2 separate regions of the Homo sapiens genome follow, and region 1 is linked to region 2. A link means that fine-mapping ties the variant in region 2 to the expression of a gene that starts in the linked region. Tissue or cell type: whole blood. Region 2 holds a variant in brackets; the other region holds the start of a gene. All regions are shown on one strand. Distances are from middle to middle.

Evidence for each region. PIP is the estimated chance that this variant, and not a neighbour inherited with it, causes the effect.
Region 1: HES1 starts here. The variant in region 2 is fine-mapped to the expression of HES1 in whole blood (INTERVAL, PIP above 0.99).

Annotation. Positions count from the first base shown.
Region 1 is chr3:194,132,387-194,139,250 of GRCh38, forward strand. HES1 (hes family bHLH transcription factor 1) reads left to right here and starts at 3,762. Exons shown (of 4, transcript NM_005524.4): 1 at 3,762-4,102; 2 at 4,231-4,326; 3 at 4,575-4,662; 4 at 5,297-6,346. The coding sequence starts at 3,995. The coding sequence ends at 5,847. RefSeq lists silencers at 1,840-2,119, 2,190-2,729, 5,456-5,655 and enhancers at 3,720-4,919, 3,729-3,888, 5,686-5,875.
Region 2 is chr3:194,159,522-194,166,385 of GRCh38, forward strand. It overlaps LOC107986172 (a long non-coding RNA gene), which reads right to left and starts at 2,764. Exons shown (of 3, transcript XR_001741081.2): 1 at 2,627-2,764; 2 at 1,261-1,374; 3 at 274-299. RefSeq lists an enhancer at 1,463-2,394. The variant AG/A (reference allele first, on the strand shown) is at 2,980.

The DNA of each region.
Region 1 (6,864 bases), 27 kb before region 2:
TTAAGAAGCTTGCAAAGCTTATTGGGGCCATGGCAGAAAGGAGGGTAACTTCATAGGCTCATCACCTTTCACCAAGAGGATTTTCACCACACAGGAAAACCCTACGTTTTCCAAAAGCAACAGACAATTTTCTGTCATCACCACTTTTCCATCTGTTTAAAATAAGAAAGAAAATTCCTTCCCCTTTGGCCCAGGTTGCAGGTCAACAAAGGAGGCATTGTTCATCATTTCTTCAGAACATGACAGGGCACAGCTCACTCTGCAGTGTAAGAAAACATTTTTTAAAAAAAATCTCAGAGTAGCCTTAGGGGCAACAGTGAGTAAACCAAAGCCTTCGATGAGGGAAATGTTTGGTTGCAGACTGGAGGACTATCCTGGAAGGTGGAAATGAGGCTTAGGTTAATACGGTCAGAGCCATGATTCCTTAGTTAGACTCAGGAATTAAATCTGAGTTCCTGAGTTCCTGGTTGGGGGTTGGGAACACTGCATTAAAGGGTAGGCAGGTTTGAGTTGAACTCAGTTCCCAAGAGCGTGCGGTCAATGTCCAGAGGAGCTGGATGTAGACAGATGCCTCTGGGAGTCAGTCTGCACCTGCCTCCTAGGAACCTTCTTCACTGGCTTGAACTGCCTAACTGCCCTTTCTGCCTCCAAGCCCTGCAATCCACTCTCCCACTTTTGCCAGAGCCATCTTTCTAAAGGGAAACCCTGATGCCTCTTCTTTGCTCAAGAATGTTTCATGGCTCTCCACTGTCTAAAGATAAGGTCCAAAGTCCTTCAGCAAGATGTTTAAGGAGCTTGTGACATGGCCTCAAGCTGCCTCTTCCAGTCCCTCACATTCCCTAGGCTCCAGACCATGTTCCCTGAATAAAGTCTTCAAGTTCCAGGATCTTGGCCTTTAATACCATGGGTACCTGCATCCTCTCCAGCCCACGACTAAGCACATTCCCAATGCCCCAATCCTACCTATTTTTCAAGGTACACAGGCCAATCCCTCCAGGAAGTTTTCCAAGGTACCCCAACTTAAAAGTAACTTAATTCTCCTGAAACTCCATAGCATTTTACCTCTATCCAGACATACGTCTCTCTTGAACCTACGACTTCCCAGAGGAATTTACTGGGCCATCCGTAGATGTCAGCTGTACACGTTTATATGTATCTCTAGACTGTTAGCTTCCAGAGAGCAATAACGGTCTTACTCACTGCTGTAAACCCAGGTAGACCAGCAATACTGTTATCCATACAAGTATGGTTTCATATTTTGTTTCTGTCCTCCTGATCTCTCAAGCCACCACCTAACTCAGAAAAGAAAGGAAAAATAAAGGAATGTCCAGTCATCAATCAGAAAATCAGCGTCTGTCTGCCCCCGCAGTTTACTGTCAACTTCTAGCAGGCCGCCACTGTATCTCTCACCGTGGAAATCCCAGGGTTTAACACAGTGTCTGACACTGCGCGTGTGTTCCACAATGAAAGAGAGAGGGGGGCTTGCCCAAGGTCACCCAGAGTCAGGAACCACTGAATCTCATCCGGGACGAGATCTGGCGAAATCATTGACAACGTTATCTCAGTGGGGAGCTGGGAGGCCGGAAGGAATGAAGTGTCTGAGAACCGTGCGCCAGGCCTCCGGGACGCGGGAAGGGCTGAGGGGGCGGGAGGCCACATCAAACAAGACGCTGGGCTCCCGGGCTGCCCGGAGCCGCGAGCCGAGCTCCCAGGCGGCGGGAAGGGCGGAGGGGGGGTGGGGGCACGGGGGCCGGCGACCCGGGCAGGCGGGAGGGAGGCGGAGGAGGCGGCCGGCCGGCCCAGGCAGTGCGCGCCGCCCGCCCGGCTCGGCAAATCCCCCAGGGAGGCCGCCGCCAGAGCCCTGGCGCTCCCGGCCCGGCGCCCGCCACGTGGCACCCGGCGGCGGCGGCGGCGACTCCTCCCGGCGCGCGGCCCGGCCAGCAGGCAGCACGCAGCCGCCCGCGCCGCCCGCCTCCTCCCGGGCGCCCGCCGGCGGCCTCCCGGGCGTAGTGAGGGGGAGCGGCCCGGCCGCCCGGGACCCGGGGAAGGGGCGGGCGGCGCGAAGCCGCTTTAACCGCAGTCGCCGAGCGGAGGCAGGAGGCTGACCCGGCCGCTTCCTAAGTGCGGTCAGGCATCCCGTGACCGCGGCGGGCGCCCAGGGCCCCGCGGGGAGAGGGCGGGGGCGAGGAGCAAACTTGGAGGCCCCCACCTCGCCCCCGGGCTGTTGCGAATGCGGCTTTCGGCCGAGTGAAAACCCCAAGCCCGAAAGTGAGGGTGGGGAGGCGGGGGTTGGAAGAATTCCCCACTCTCCACCCCGGGTGTGCGCTCCCCGCCGGGAAGAGCTGACCTTGGCCTGGGGAGGCGGGGGTGGGGAGAGAGGGTAAGCGCCGGGGCTCGGCTCCCAGCCCGCCGCCCCCTCGGATTCCTGGCCCGGCGGGGCCGGAGGAGGGGGCCCCGGACACACACACACACACACCCCCCACACGCAGCGCGCGCCAATGAGCCCGGGCCAGGCGCAGGGGGCGGGGTTTTCCCAGGCTCGAGCACAGCAGCTGCTATTTACCTTCTTGGCTTCTCCCGGGGACCAGGAACCGGCCCCCGCTCTCCGCCGCCCGTCGCCGCCCCCCGCCTCCCTGCCCCCGGGGCGCGCGCACACACACTCACTCACACACGCACGCACACACACATCCTCCCGGCCCGGCCGCAGCCGCGGCGGCAATAAAACATCCTGGCACGTGCTCCGGCTCCAGGCGCGCCCACGCCGGCCGGCTGATGTCAAACTGCAGCTCGGCTGGTGTAGCTCTTAAAGGGCCCGCGGGCGCCGGGGGCCGAGGCCGCCCGCGGGGCGAGGAGGGAGAGGCTGCTTCCTTGCCCGCCACCTCAACGCGCCGCAGAACCTAAAGCCTACGGATGAAAAGGGAAAGGGTGGTGAAGGAGGGCGCGAGTCCCTGAGTCATTGCCCTCGGAGCCCCCCTTGTTCATTTTTTCATTTGAAATACCGTTTCCTTCCACCCAGTTGGAAATTATTCTGATTGTTTCCTGGGGAAGCCCGGGGTCTAAGGCCCCAAATCCAAACGAGGAATTTCTGAAAGACGGGGTGGGGGTGGGATTCAAGAACTACCTTGCTCCGAAAAACCTGCATTTGTGAGGTAGAAGGCAATTTTTCCTTTTTCTGCATGGAAACAGGAAAATTTTTTTGGCCCTTTTCCTTTACCATCTACTTTCACCCTCCTGAATGTAAAGTCTGAGCGGGAACTTTAGATGTGTCGGTAACTCACATTCTTACACCCGTCCCCCCCTCCCCCCGCCCCCTTTTAACCACTGCTGTTTTTTTCTTTATTGTTTATACCTTTAAAAAAAATATGTTTCAAATGAACTTACTACAGTCAAAGCAGCTCTGTTACATATGAGAGAGGGCATAAAGAGCAAAGACCCTGGCTCCAAAAGAAATAGACAAGATCAAGACCAAAGCGGAAAGAAAAAAAAAATCTCTAAACCAAAGCCCAGAGGGAGAGTAGCAAAGGGTTAAAATCCTTTTGATTGACGTTGTAGCCTCCGGTGCCCTGGGCTCAGGCGCGCGCCATTGGCCGCCAGACCTTGTGCCTGGCGGCCAATGGGGGGGCGCGGTCCACGAGCGGTGCCGCGTGTCTCCTCCTCCCATTGGCTGAAAGTTACTGTGGGAAAGAAAGTTTGGGAAGTTTCACACGAGCCGTTCGCGTGCAGTCCCAGATATATATAGAGGCCGCCAGGGCCTAGGGATCACACAGGATCCGGAGCTGGTGCTGATAACAGCGGAATCCCCCGTCTACCTCTCTCCTTGGTCCTGGAACAGCGCTACTGATCACCAAGTAGCCACAAAATATAATAAACCCTCAGCACTTGCTCAGTAGTTTTGTGAAAGTCTCAAGTAAAAGAGACACAAACAAAAAATTCTTTTTCGTGAAGAACTCCAAAAATAAAATTCTCTAGAGATAAAAAAAAAAAAAAAAGGAAAATGCCAGCTGATATAATGGAGAAAAATTCCTCGTCCCCGGTGGCTGCTACCCCAGCCAGTGTCAACACGACACCGGATAAACCAAAGACAGCATCTGAGCACAGAAAGGTAAGGGCGGTACCTGTATCTCTTTGCAGCCCCTCAAAATTAAGTAGGGGTTGGGGGGCTTCTTTCTGTCTTGAAACCCCGGGATGGCAGATTCCATGGGAACACAGAACTCTTTTTTTTATTTGCAGTCATCAAAGCCTATTATGGAGAAAAGACGAAGAGCAAGAATAAATGAAAGTCTGAGCCAGCTGAAAACACTGATTTTGGATGCTCTGAAGAAAGATGTAAGTGGGGAAATGCTGCTCGCTCTTTTAATTAAAAAACAAACACTTTCTCAGCTACTAAGAGTGAAACCCCCCGCCCTGCGGGGTCTGGCACTCGCTGGTACTGCGTTCTCCCAGGCGGGAGGGCCCGGCCTTATTCGCTGGGGTCCAGAGATAATGCTTGCGCTCCGTGGCCGGGAGGAGGGACCCCCAGCACTCTGAAGCAGCTGACACGGGGCTCACTTTCCTTTCTTGCCTACTCTATGCAGAGCTCGCGGCATTCCAAGCTGGAGAAGGCGGACATTCTGGAAATGACAGTGAAGCACCTCCGGAACCTGCAGCGGGCGCAGATGACGGGTGAGGGCGGCTCGCCGCGTCCCCCTGTGCGGGCGTCCCGCTCGCCTCGCGGTGATTTCTTCCAGACTTCCGCCCGTGGTTGTGAGAGGCATTCAGCTACATTTTACTGCCTTGGCTCACTCTTGCGTTCCCACGGTCTGGGGCTTATTTATAGCCACAACTCCAAGTTGTTACTGTTCCGGAAAGGGAGGGAAAGAGGTTGCAGCCGCGAGGGTGGCGGGCGCCGGGTAGGGGCGAAAGGACTTAGGACTGTGGCGGTTTGGAACTGCGTGGAGCCTGGGGGTCACTGGTTTAGCACTCCTTCCCGTTGCAGAAGGGGAAATGAGGCTTGGATGATGGATTGGGAGGCATTGTCCAAGGTCACATCGCGCGCGGGGGTGGGGGTGACAGATCTGGGGCTGAGATAGGTTTAAATGCAGCTACAGGGAATCGGGAAGGAGTGGCTCGGCTTTTGGCAGCAACGCTAGTGTGGAGAGGTGGCTGGTTTTTTCTAAACCCATCTCACCCTCCCTGCCGGAGGCAGTTTCACGGGCGCATGGTCAGGGAGGCGCGCCACAGGGACCTCCCAGGGCGGAGGCAGTGGCCACGGGGCCAGGGCCGTTCGGTGACCCGTCTGTCTCTTTCTGGCCCGCAGCTGCGCTGAGCACAGACCCAAGTGTGCTGGGGAAGTACCGAGCCGGCTTCAGCGAGTGCATGAACGAGGTGACCCGCTTCCTGTCCACGTGCGAGGGCGTTAATACCGAGGTGCGCACTCGGCTGCTCGGCCACCTGGCCAACTGCATGACCCAGATCAATGCCATGACCTACCCCGGGCAGCCGCACCCCGCCTTGCAGGCGCCGCCACCGCCCCCACCGGGACCCGGCGGCCCCCAGCACGCGCCGTTCGCGCCGCCGCCGCCACTCGTGCCCATCCCCGGGGGCGCGGCGCCCCCTCCCGGCGGCGCCCCCTGCAAGCTGGGCAGCCAGGCTGGAGAGGCGGCTAAGGTGTTTGGAGGCTTCCAGGTGGTACCGGCTCCCGATGGCCAGTTTGCTTTCCTCATTCCCAACGGGGCCTTCGCGCACAGCGGCCCTGTCATCCCCGTCTACACCAGCAACAGCGGCACCTCCGTGGGCCCCAACGCAGTGTCACCTTCCAGCGGCCCCTCGCTTACGGCGGACTCCATGTGGAGGCCGTGGCGGAACTGAGGGGGCTCAGGCCACCCCTCCTCCTAAACTCCCCAACCCACCTCTCTTCCCTCCGGACTCTAAACAGGAACTTGAATACTGGGAGAGAAGAGGACTTTTTTGATTAAGTGGTTACTTTGTGTTTTTTTAATTTCTAAGAAGTTACTTTTTGTAGAGAGAGCTGTATTAAGTGACTGACCATGCACTATATTTGTATATATTTTATATGTTCATATTGGATTGCGCCTTTGTATTATAAAAGCTCAGATGACATTTCGTTTTTTACACGAGATTTCTTTTTTATGTGATGCCAAAGATGTTTGAAAATGCTCTTAAAATATCTTCCTTTGGGGAAGTTTATTTGAGAAAATATAATAAAAGAAAAAAGTAAAGGCTTTTATGTCTTCGAACTGATTCTTCCAGAATATGTAAAAAGGCTTTTGGTGGAATTTGAATTACATGTAATTGGTAATTCAGGAATTGACTCTTTTGTTATTAAAAGAACATTTGTAAAAATCCATCAAACTTTTCACCAATCCTCCATGAACTAAAAAGACTAAATTCCATTTACTTTACAAGCAGCCATCTGGTAAGGCTTCCCTGATAAACTTGTGGTCAGTCTCTTAAAGGATTTCCAAAAAAAATGTTTTTAAGTTGCAGTCGGGTAAGTCTGCAGCCCTTGTTCTTCTAGCTCCTCCTGAGGAAGATTGAACAGGACTAAATTCACGAAGCTAATGGATCCAATCCTATTGCCCATTGCACGTTAAGGGTGGTTCCTGCAGCTCTCCTCTCAGGGTAGCTCACCAGCATCCAAAGCAAAAACACTTCCAACTGCTGCGCCTCCTTCAAGACTTGGGGTCTTCATTAATTAGCCAATCCTTTGGTTCAAATAAGACGTTCCCTAGCACCCAAAAGTTTCCTCTCCGCACCCTCTTAAAGCAAGCTGAAAAGGTCAACAGATTCCTTCTGCCAAGGGACAGTTAGTTAGACTCCCAAGTGGAGGCCGAGCCCAGATGATTAACACCAGACATGTGTTTT
Region 2 (6,864 bases):
CTACTGTATACTAGGCCCTATATTGGGTACCAAGCCCTATTCCTGAACCCAGTCTGGGGTGAAGTTTCTAAGTGGAGAGGGAGAAAGAAAAGGCAGGCAGGGGTCCCAGAGACTGTGCCATTCCATGCGGTCAGGTCTGTCCAGGAATATGACATTCAGCTACCACCCTAAAGACAGCTCTCCAGGCCGGGTGCAGTGGCTCACACCTGTAATCCCAGTACTTTGGGAGGCCGAAGCAGGCAAATCACTTGAGTCCAGGAGTTCTAGACGAACCTGGGCAACATGGGGAAACTCCATCTCTACAAAAATACAAAAAAATGAGCAATTAGCTGGGCCTGGTGGCACGCACCTGTATTCCCAGCTACTCGGGAGGCTGAGGTGGGCAGATTGCTTGAGCCCAGGCTGCAGTGAGCCAAGATCGCGCCACTGCACTCTAGCCTGGGTGACAGAGCGAGGCCCTGTCTCAAAACACAAAAGAGACAGCTCTCCAGCTCTGGAGATAGGAAGGCCCTATTCCACTATGTGTGGATCCCTCTGCAGCTGCCACCCACTTTCTGGATTTTCTCCAGATTTCCTAGAGTGAGGAAGGAGGGGAGTTTCTGTGCAGGAGTGCCCTGTCACGTCTCAGCTTCAGTCTTTTGAAATTAAATTTGTGATTCCTCACCCCTTACATCTCCCCCTGGCCTGGCTCACAGGAGTGCCCTCCCTTCCCTGTCCAGGTAAAACATCTTCAGCCACTCTGGCCACCTTATACTCAAGTACATTTGGGTGCATGGGGCCCTCTGAGGAGGCAAATGACCTCTGGAGTGGAAGGGCCAGTGTGATCAGGACAAGTGGAGGCGGCACTGGCTGACCCGCTGAGGACTGAAACCACAGCAGAAAGCTGCACTGGGACGGGGAGAAGGTTTGGGGTGTGTTGGAGGGAGGCCCCTGGCAGACTCAGACAGTAGCTGAGTGATCTGGGCTTCAGGATTCAGGTTTACCTGACAGCGACAGGTAACCTGTTCTCTGCACCTCCAAGCACCTCCTGCCCCTCACTATGGCTCTCTGTACTTGCTATGAACTGGGAGAGGCAGTTCTGGAATCTAACCCATGCTCCAGGGAGGTAAGGCGAGCTCTCCGGGCCACTGACAGAGCAAGCCAGGCCCTCACTTCTGCTGGAGTGAGGCGCTCCCGCCATCCCCGGCCTGTCCTGGAGAGTGATGCCTCCCTCTGGGGTGCTGGCCTTTGCCTTCAGTCCTTGGGGAGGCCACATCTTACCCACATTTTTCTTTGACCTGAAGACTGTTCATGTCCATAATTAAGGGGGTGATGAAGGCAGGGAAAGGCAAAGTGGAACAGGGATCCCAGAGCGTCCCAAAGCTGTTACAACCTCTGAACAAAAGAAGAAGAAAGTTATCTCTGAGCTAGGGTGAGGAGAATTGGTCAAAGGTTAAAGGCAGAGATGAATTAAGGTGAGTGTGTAGCAGTGGGTGTGGAGAGAATGAGACTGATTTACAGTCTTTTGAGGGCAAAAAGTTAGAATCTTTTCTGTCTTCAAAGCCTGATCCCAGGGCTCAGCCTGAGTATCTCTCTCTCTCTCTCTCCACCTCCCTCTCCACCCCCCACCCCATACTCCTTTCTCTCCTTCTCCATTTGCCAAGCTTCTCAGGACCTGGCATTTACTTCTGCCAAGCTGTAGGTCTTCCTCCCCACTCCAGGAATTTCACAAATAAATCCCTGAGAACAGAGCCTGCCTCACAACAAACAGCACATGGGTTTCTGCTCAGCCTCTGTGGCCTTGGACCAGCTTCTGGGAAAGAGCCCCTGCCTGGCTACAGGCGCAAACACAGCCCTGCCTTTCACAAACATTCAGTGGTGAGAAGCAGTAGGGAGGAACCCCAAGCCCCCAGGTGAAGGAGCTGCGCCCAGGCACGCACGGTAAGATCAGGCTGTGCCGGGGCCACGGCTGCCCCCGGCTGAGCTGGGATCCAAGGCACAAGGCTTCTCCCTCAGGGGACTAGCCACTCAACTCAGCGACGTTGATAAAGTTATTTTAGCCTCCCTAGACTTCCCTTTCCCTGTTTTTACATAGATCAGAGGTTTATGCTGCTTAATTCACAAAGAAACTACAAAGAAAAAAACTGATTTGTTTTGAAGCATTCTGTCTTCCTGAGAGGAACGCAGGTTCTAGCAAACTCCTTGAACAGACACGGATACATATGGACACACATTCATGATGTATTGACCTGTCCACACACTCACACTGCCCCATTCATGGGTTCAGCTGCAGCTCTCCAGGTATAGGGACATTGGTGCACTGCAGTGTCCCCTGCTGTGTGGTGCTTGGAGCAAAGCTAATGCTCAATAAATATCCACCGAATGAGTGTACTTGACAGTATGTGTGGGCATCCTCTCCTTATGCCAGTCACTGTGCTCGGGGTTGGGGGACAGCCCTGCCCGCTAGTTGCTCACAGTCCAGGAGGGAGACTTGCACGTACACTCACACAGCCAATGTAGAGTATTAATGGGCACCAGGACAGAAAAGAAAGGGGAGGTCAGAGCAGCTCAGAGTGGGGAGATCCCGGCTCTGTCCCATGGTTTGGGGGTTTGGGGGACACCTGGGGAGGATGTCAAGGGGAAATACCTCAGAGCACTGAAGGAAGAGGGAGATGAGGTGGCTGCAGATGTCTTCCAGCAGAGGGAAAGCATGTTCCAAAGCCCTGAAGTGACACAGTAGAGTCAGGAGACCAGGAACTGCTTCTGGTGGCTGGACCGTAAAGAAGGAGGCAGCATAGTGAGACCCCATCTCTATAATCAAATAAAAATAGCCAGGCATAGTGGCACATGCTTCCCACTAGTCCCAGCTATCCAGGAGGCTGAGGCGGGAAGATCATTTGAGCCCAGGAGTTCAAGGCTGCAGTGAGCTAGGATCGTCCCCCTGCACGCCAGCCTGGGTGACAGAGCAAGACTTTGCCTCTAAAAATAGTGGGAAGGGCT[AG/A]GCGGTGAGTTGTGGGGCCGCAGGCTGGGTGAGGAGTGCTGAGTCTGCAGACGGTGCGTGCCTACTTTCAACAATCGCTATCCTTCCCTCCAGCATTCCTCTTAGACTCTTAAAATGTGCAGCTTGAGTATCTTTTATCCTAAATGCTTGGGACCAGAAGTGTTGTGGATTTCACATTTTTTCAGAATTTGGAATATCTGCATTATGCTTACAGTTGATTATTCCTAATTCAAAAATCAGAAATCCAAAATGTTCCAATGATATTTCCTTTGAGAGTTATGTTGGTGCTCAGAATGTTTTAGATTTTGGAGCATTTCAGATTTGAAATTTTTGGATTCAGGATACTCAACCTGTCATAGTTTTACTTTTCTCTCTGCTGATTGAGAAACTATATATGCATAGAAGAGCTTACAGCCCTCTCCCAGCAACTCAGAGACAACCCACTTCTGACGTCAGTCTTCACACTGGGGTGCATCAGTTGGAAAGCATTACTTAGGTGACCATAAAATTTATTATGTAACTGGTTCACTTTAGGGAGTGAAAGGGGTTATTACCAATAATTAAACCCTGGGGAAAAAAACAAGAACCAGGACTATTCTGGGCAAACCAGGATATATGATCACTCTAGGTAAAGATATTGGGTTGAGGCCGGGCACAGTTGGCTCATGCCTGTAATCCCAGCACTTTCGGAGGCTGAGGCAGGAGGATCACTTGAGCCCAGGTGTTCAAGAACAGCCTGGGCAACATGGTAAAACCCCATCTCCACAAAAAAATACAAAGATTAGCCGAGTGTAGTGGTGTGCGCCTATAGTCCCAGCTACTGGAGAAGCTGAGGCAGGAGAATTGCTTGACCCCAGGAGGTTAAGGCCGCAGTGAGCCATGATCATGCCACTGCATTCTAGCCTGGGCAACAGAGAAAGACCCTATCTCAAAAAAATAAAATAAAATGAAAAGATTTGGGGTTTCCATGAAAGGATTGTATAGAGGTAAGTGGTGTCATCAGATTCACATTATTGGAATTGAGCTACCCCCTCTCACCCTAACTTCTTCATAGAACAGTGAGTGTAAGAGGACAGGATGGTTTGGATGGTCTCTTGAGGCTCTTCCCAGCTTCAGCCTCTTCTATAAATCTCTGTTTGGTAGGCATTTGAACGGCGAAAAGGGTTGAATAAAATGTAACCTCAAGGAAGTTTTGGGGGCAAACTGCAATTTAACCTAAACCGTGAAGATGCATACCAATATCCTGTGTTTTTAGCTGAAACCCTATAAAAGTGCCCAAGAAAAACATTCCCAAGGAACCTCTGCTCATCCACCCAACCAGGAAGGGAAAGGCGATGCCCGTGAAAACATTCCATTGAAATTAAAGCCCTGCTGCCAGTCAGCCTCTCCCACAAGTCCTAGCCCTCCCTTCATCTCTTCCTCCCTCCTCCCTTTCCTCCTCCTGACTCCAAGAGCAAGCAGGTAGGAGATTGGGTCGGTAAACGCATGTGAGCATTCAGTAGTTTAGTTAGTGCCATCATTTCAACTCCTGCAGCAACCCCCTCCCTCTTAAGTAAAAACCTCATGGCTGTCTAGTGCCTTGAGAATTAAGCACAAACTCTTCAACCTCTATTTCAAGATCTTTTGCTTTATCTCCATTTTATTCCTTATGCACCCTTTCTTACAACTTAATTGGAATTCTTGCTAAACAAACTTTACATATTCTCTCTAGGTGCTTACTCAGGTTCTATCTACTCCTGACTTATCTAAATTGTACCAATAAATTTCATCTCTTCCATAAAATGTGGCTTTCCTCCTTTCAGTCTTCTTTTCTTCCAAGTTACTCAAACACTTGTCTTTCAAGATACTGCACTTCTAAATAAAGGTATAATTAATAGTGCTGGTATTTGTCTCTGAATCGTCTTGCTAAGGAACTGAACACTGGTGTGGTTTAAAATACAGCCTTGTAAAGGGCGTCTGCATTAAGTTCAGCATCAATATAGTGAACTTCTGGGAGAGGGGGACCACCAGGTCGCCCTAGGAGAGGTGAATCTGCCCAGATTGGAAATGGAGAGATCAAAACGTTCATGCTGATCAGTAGCGAGATTGTTCCTGTGAATAGCCACTGCACTCCAGCCTGGGCAACATAGCAAACCCCATCCCTTAAAAAAAATTAAGACCTTCTCTTCAAAAGACACTGCCTTGAGAATAAAAAACTTTGGAGAAAAAGAAAATAAATGGAGAAAATATTAGCAAATCACAAATCTGATAAGGGAATTGTATCCGGATTATATGAAGAACTTGCAAACTCAATAATAAAAAAAGCAAACCAATTAAAAAATGGACAAAAGATTTCAACAGACCCTTCATCCCAAAATAATATGATGGCAAATAAGCACATGAAAAGATGTATACCATTGGTCATTTGGAAAATGCAATTGAAATCATAATGAGATACGAACCCACCACACACACACACCAGACTGTTTAAAACTGAAAAGACTAACCATGCCAAGCATTGGCAAAGATGTGAAGTAACTAGAATTCTCACATACCGCCGGTTGGAATATAAAATGGTACAAACTATTTCAAGAAATGATTTCTGAAGAAGTTAAACATATGCCTAACATGTGATCCAGCCGTTTCATTCATAGGTATTTACCCAAGAGAACTGAAAGCATATGTCGATACAAAAGACTTGTACATAAAATATTCAAGGCAGCTTTATTTGTAACAGTCAAAAACTGGAACAATGCAAATGTCTATCAATAAGTGAATGGATAAACAAAGTGTGATATTATCCATCCGATGGATTACTATGTAGGAATACAATGAAATAAACTACAGATAAATGCAACAACATGGATGGATCTCAAAATAATTATGCTCAGTAAAAAAGGCCAGAAAAAGAAGAATATGTCCTCTATGACTCCGTTCTTTTACAATTCTCCAAAATGCAAACTAATCTACAATGACATAAGGCAAATTAGCTGTTGCCTAGAGACTGGGGGAGGGAAGATAGGGTGCCAGAGAGGCAGAAAGGATCCTAAAGGGATGTGAGGAAACTTTTGAGGGAAGGGATATATCCACTGTTTTGATTGTGGTGAGGGTTTTACAGTTGTACACATAGGCCAAACTTATCACTTGCATACTTTATGTGCAGTTTATTTCATGCCAATCACACCTCAATAAAATTTAATATTAAAAAATAGATGTAGTATGTCATCTAGGAGCTCAGAGTCATGGTCTCGCTAAAGAGACGCTACTCAAAGAGAAAGAGAAGGGTTTTTGTCTGCATGTTTGTTTTGTTTCAACATCATCTAGCCCAGCATTGCCCACAATCGTCACTCAACATCCGGCCCGACTAACTTACAAGGCACTGCTGTCCTTACAAGTGTCCACACCTGCCATTTGATCATCTGGGTGAGAGGAGGGGGTCAATATCTATCTAAGTCTAATTTCCTGAGGCTTGTATCAGTTGCTTCTGAACTGTAAGTGGCCCTTTGGGGTAGAATTGAAAGACTGGTCCACAGGACCTTAGAGCTAGAGGAGTCCTAGGGGTCTTCTGGTCCCACCTCCATCCAGTGCAGCATTTAATCCACTGTACCTTGGAGTAACCTCCATCTAGTCTCTGACAATGTCTCCTGGGAAACTCCTAGTATTCACCAAAAGTCAAGAAACTAGCTGCATTCCAATGGGAAGAAGCCAGGGTAGGAGAAGAGGAAGTAAGAGAGCTGTCCCTGAAACCCACCAGGATCTTTATCCCTCCTTTCAATGAGGTTCCTTAGGAATCTCACAGTGGGAGGAAATCAATATCTTTCAATAGACCAGTGCATTTCCTTTGACCTGTGAAGGAGGGCTGGGGAGAAGGGGAAATGAAAGGATTTGATAAATGAGACACATTT